Regions from separate parts of the Homo sapiens genome. Here region 2 is linked to region 1. Evidence: fine-mapped expression QTL. Tissue or cell type: whole blood. Region 1 holds a variant in brackets; the other region holds the start of a gene. All regions are shown on one strand. Distances are between the middles of the regions.

What was found. PIP is the estimated chance that this variant, and not a neighbour inherited with it, causes the effect.
Region 2: DRICH1 starts here. The variant in region 1 is fine-mapped to the expression of DRICH1 in whole blood (TOPMed, PIP above 0.99).

What each region holds. Positions count from the first base shown.
Region 1 is chr22:23,695,261-23,697,943 of GRCh38, reverse strand. It overlaps RGL4 (ral guanine nucleotide dissociation stimulator like 4), which reads right to left. Exons shown (of 11, transcript NM_153615.2): 7 at 1,256-1,330; 8 at 699-773; 9 at 83-106. It also overlaps the pseudogene GUSBP11. Among named protein-coding and RNA genes, the nearest start is that of RGL4, 5.6 kb to the right of the region's middle. RefSeq lists enhancers at 1,210-1,289, 2,024-2,524. The variant A/G (reference allele first, on the strand shown) is at 1,640.
Region 2 is chr22:23,631,123-23,633,805 of GRCh38, reverse strand. It overlaps DRICH1 (aspartate rich 1), which reads left to right and starts at 1,485. Exons shown (of 12, transcript NM_016449.4): 1 at 1,485-1,990. The coding sequence starts at 1,783. LOC124905089 (a long non-coding RNA gene) reads left to right here. Exons shown (of 3, transcript XR_007068021.1): 3 at 896-930. RefSeq lists a silencer at 309-446.

The sequences.
Region 1 (2,683 bases):
GAGCCAGGGAGTGTCCTGCCCAGGGTGGACTGTGACGTCCACATCCCCACCCTCATCCAACGTGAGTGCCCCAGCTGCTCACCTTGCTCCTCTTGTTGGTGTTGCCCTGGAAGGCAGACAGAGTCCATCAGAAAGGCCCCTGGCCCACAACCAGCCCCACCCCACCCCTTCCCATGCTGCACTACTGCCAGGGCCACCAGGGTCAGGGGATGTGCACACGACAGGACTTGGACCTGCCTCAGGCTCCGGGCTCTAGAGCAGGGGGAATGGGAGCTGAGGCCCAGGGACCTTCTGCCCCAACCCTCTGTGATGACAGACAGGGAAACTGAGGTCTCTCATAGAAAGAAAGCGCTCAGTGACCTTGGAACTGCCTGCCCTTGGAGAGGCTCAATTTCACCCTCCTATTACGGGACTACCCTAGGGAGAAGCTGAGCCCAGTTCAGCCCACACCTCAGCAGCTTTGCAGTCAGGCAGCTCTGCAGCTTCACCACTCAGGAATAGGGCCTGGTGGCTGCCATGGAGCCTCCATCACTCAGAGGTGATGAGATGGGCCTGACACCCCCACCCACAGGAGCAGCTGTGAGGCTCTTAGGAGAGGAGGTTTGCCAAGGGCTGAGATCTAAAGGCTCGGTCCAGGACCCTCTCCTCCCAAGCTTCAGGATCTTGGTTCCCAAGCACCCTGCCCCAGGCTCACTCACATCCAGGTCGTCCGGGATGGCCGAATCCAGCCTCTGTAACTCAGTCAGAAAATCCCCCAGGAAGGGGACCACACCCTGTGCCAAGGAGGGGTGGGGAGGTGGGAGGGGTAGTGGTGATGAGTATTGGCCCTCAGGTGCCTGCCCAAGGTCCTGTCCCATGAAATCCCATCAGCCCCTGTCTCCCAGAGCCCCCTCCTCAGGTCTCCCGGTTGGAGCAGCCAAAGACCCTCAGCTGCCTTTCCCAATTCTCTGCCTCCTGTATCCCAGCTGACCTCCAAGTCTAGCAAGCACTCCTTGTTAACCTCTATGGTGGGATTTTAACAAGTCACAAAGGCCTGTGGTCCCAGCTTTACCCTTCCCCACATCTAGTCTGAGTCCAGCTTTCCCAGACCCTTCCTCTGGTCTCTCAAATGAAGGTTTTCCAGGCCCAGTGGCCACAGGAGGACAGGGCTGGGGAGGAAGCCCCCGCTGTCTTGATATGGAGGCCTCCAGCTGGCGGGGAAGGGAGCCCTGTCCTCTGATCCCCTGCGGCCCGTCCATGCCACAGGCTCACTCACCTTCTTCTGCCTCCGCAGCCTCATCTGGACTCTCTGGGGGTTCCTCTCCTGGGTGGCCACCTTAAAGCTCCCCGCCTGCCAGGTGTCAGCGACAGGGACAGTGAGGCTCTCCTCCTCTCCCCCAGTTACACCCCAGCCACCCCGCACTTGGATCCCCAGGGAGTGGCGGGAGCCACCTGGCACCGTGCTCATACCACTGGCCCAGATCCACACTCCCTGTGTGTGTCACCCAGTCTTGCAGCCGGGCCTCCCTGAGACTGTTTCCTCTTCTGTAAAGAGTGATGCAAACCACAGCTACCTCACAGGGCCTCTGAGGGCTCAGTTTCCTGTAGCTGTTGCCGTTGTTCTCACCGTCATCCCTCTGAGGAAGAACCAGGCACGAGC[A/G]CCCTCAAATTGCTTTCTTTTCTTGAACTTCATTTCTACCCTGTGAGGCCTGCACTACAGGCTCAGCATCCCTTCATTTTCCAGATGAGGAAACAGAGGCCCAGAGCGGGCAGTGGCTCCCCAGGGCCCCCAAAGAGAGGACGCCTCCTTCTGCTCCTGGAGGCTCCGTCTCGGCTGCCTTCAGCTCACATCCCAGCACCACCACCCATCAGGGTCGTGTTCTCTGGAGTCTTTGAGTGTCTAGGTCTCCAGCCACATACAGTCGTGATGGGAAAGGGACAGGGCATTTTAGGAGACCTGGTTAAGTGGCACCTGCCTATCCCAGCCCCACTGGAATCTCTGCCACGCAAACTGGGTTTGAGCCATGCCAAAGGCTTCGCCTCGCCAATGATCCCCCAGGGGAGTTCCGTGCACGGAACTCTCTCTTTCTCCACTGAGGAAGTAGCCTCCTGATGCGCCATCTCTGACTGCAATGGCAGGGTTTTCCAGAGTCCTGGGTGGGGTGACATGTTGCCTTCTCATTTGCATGGACGATTCTGAGATCTGGTCAGGGAGGATCCCCTAGCAATGTATGAATCCCCCAGATACTTGTCATGAGCATGCGTCGCTGCTAACCGGTGAGAATCCTCTGACATGACCGTTTTTGGGTGTCTGCAAAGGGCAGAGTGGGGAGTCCCAGCAAACAGCTACGTCTGTCCCCAGTATGCCCATTGGTACCCAAAGCTGGGCAGTTACTGGACTCCCTGCCACATGAGCTTCCTCTGTTGTTGTTCCCCCTCTCCCCCAGTGCAGGCCAAGGCCCCCTGCCCATGGAGGTGTGCTGCAGACAGCAGCAGCAGCAGCAGCAGCAGCAGCAGCAGCAGCAGAGGCCTGGCTTCCTGAGGAATTGCTGGCCGGTTTGAGGAAGGAAGGAAGTCCCACCTACCATGATCACCCTCCAGCCTGGAGGAAGCTCCATGCCAGCAGCATGGACCAGCATGGGAGCCAGAGCCCTGCTAATGCTGCAGCTCATCACCCCTGCTCAGCAGCCCAGCAGCCCAGCAG
Region 2 (2,683 bases), 64 kb after region 1:
GGGACTATTTCTGAGGGTTAAATTAGTATGCCACAGTTGGAACACTGTCAGGCACATAATGCTTGCCAGATATTGACTATTTGTCTTTGTCCTATGAGGACAATGGTACCCCACTGTGGGGTTCTCAATTTTGTATAAGAAAATAATGTTTTATGATTTGTTAGTAAAAGAAATACCTGAGGCTGGGCATGGTGGTTCATGCCTGTAATCCCAGCACTTTGGGAGGACGAGGCGGGTGGATCACCTGAGATGAGTTCAAGACCAGCCTGACCAACATGGTGAAACCCTCGTCTCTACTAGAAATACAAAAATTAGCCAGATGCGGTGGCGTGTGCCTGTAGTCCAGGCTACTCAGGAGGCTGAGGCTGGAGAATCGCTTGAACCTGGGAGGTGGAGGTTACAGTGAGCCGAGATCGTGCCACTGCACTCCAGCCTGGTCGACAGAGCAATAGTCCATCTCAAAAAATAAATAAATAAGTAAATAAAAGAAATATCTGAATACCCCTGCCATGGAAAGAAGAAACAGAGCGAGAAAAGGGAGTTGGTAGGTCGTAGCATTACAGAACTGGGAAGGATGTGTTCAGTCCCTATTTTATAGACGAGGAGGGAAGTGTGATGTGTCCCAGGGTTTCACTGAGGATACACAGCCATAACTCTCTATTGAGAGTGGGACCAGGGCCCTGGGGGTAGCTATGGTCAAGTTGCAGACAAGAACTAACACTTGTAAGACAGGAGAGAAGCATTTAATTAGAAAAGCAGTAAAAAATTTGTGTATAACTACATTTGGTGAGCAAATGAAAGCTGTCAGACTCAGAAAAACAGAACTGCTGGTGGAACTGACTTTAGTAACTGGGGTTTTCTTTCTTTTGTTTCTTTTTTTTTTTTTTTTTTAAAGACAGTTGCACCTTTGTCACCCAGGCTGGAGTGCAATGGTGTGATCTTGGCTCACTGTGCAACCTCCGCCTCCTGGATTCAAGCGATTCTCCTGCCTCAGCCTCCTGAGTAGCTAGGATTGCAGGTGCCCGCCACCAGGCCGAGCTAATATTTTGTATTTTTAGTAGAGACAAGTTTTCACCATGTTGGCCAGGCTGGTCTTGAACTCCTGACCTCAAGTGATCCACCCCCCCCGCTCAGCCTCCCAAAGTGCTAGGATTACAGGCGTGAGCCACCACTCCCGGCCATACCAGGGTTTTCTATTGAGTTTCTTGCCAAGGGTGACTCGCAATAACAACTCCCCCTGCACTTAGCTCAGGACTGGAAAGCTCAGGCAGCATAGGGTGAATAAAAGCCTGAGTAGTGCAGTCCCCACAGAGGGGCAGGGGGGCCACAAGGTGGGCAGCAGCAGGGACAGGCATTATGAGGCATTGGGGGGGGCTGTGGGGCTGGACATTGTGAGTCACTAGCCTGACCTGGCTGTTTCCTGGTAACCAGGTGACATAGGAAGCTTTGTGGGTTATAAGCATCAGCCAGGGCCAGCAGCCCTCAGTCAGTAGCTCGCAGTGGAGGGAGGAGGAGCTCCAACTGTGCTCTTTGATGGCAGTTTTTGCACCTTTGGGTGCTTGTCATGTTCGTTTATTTTTCAAAGAAGACAGCAGGTCCCTGACCTCATAGACCAGCTAGTTTGGGAGGTGGCGGCAGAATAAGGGCTGAGGACCCAGATCTGCCTGGGGTCAGGCTGCTTCTAAAAGTGCAGGGCCACCCTCAGTAGTGTGGCTGCTAGGGCAGCACAGTTACAATTTCGCTGAAGGCTGAGGCAGGAGTGGAGAGGCATGGAGAGGCCCCATGGGGAATATACTGACCTGTTGTATCAACTCCCACTGTGGCTGGCCCAGGGGGAAGGACGCACCCTGTTATGAATCTGATACTGATATTTATGAGACTGTGGCTGCTGCAACATCAGAATCCACTACTGTAGAGCCTGGCAAGCTGGATGTGGGAGCCACGGAGGGCCAAGACCTGCAGCACATCAGCAACCAAAAGATGCCCACAGGTAAAAAAGCCACGGGTGCCGTTTACCCTCTGGCACACCTCTGGCCACCCCCACCCCCTTCCCTTACCCTCATCCCCAGAGACATCCTCAGCTTCCAGCTCCCTCCTGTCCATAGCCAGCTTTCCCAGGTCTGGGCATGGGGGACAAAGGCTGACTCTGCCTCCTGTCTTTGTCGTTGAGACTTTTTGATCTAGAAAAGGGAGAGCCCTTTTCTCAATGAAAATTCAAATACCCCAATTTTGGAGTCCCCATCCCATTCTCTAGCCTCACCTATCTGGCCGGTTTGGTACCTAAATGAAGGAACCAGCTAAGGGTCAGATTGTTTTTCTTCCATCTCTTAAGGTAGCTTATTTTTTGTAAATTTTATTTATTATTTATTTATTTATTTATTTATTTATTTTAGATGGAGTCTTGCTCTGTTGCCCAGGCTGGAGTGCAGTGGCGGGATCTCAGCTCACTGCAACCTCTGCCTCCTGGGTTCAAGCGATTCTCTAGCATCAGCCTCCTGAGTAGGGACTACAGGTGCCCACTACCACGCCCGGCTAATTTTTTGTATTTTTAGTAGAGACGGGATTTCACTGTGTTAGCCAGAATGGTCTCGATCTCCTGACCTGGTGATCTGCCCGCCTCGGCCTCCCAAAGTGCTGTGATTACAGGCATGAGGCATCGCGCCCGGCTCCTAATTTAATTTTT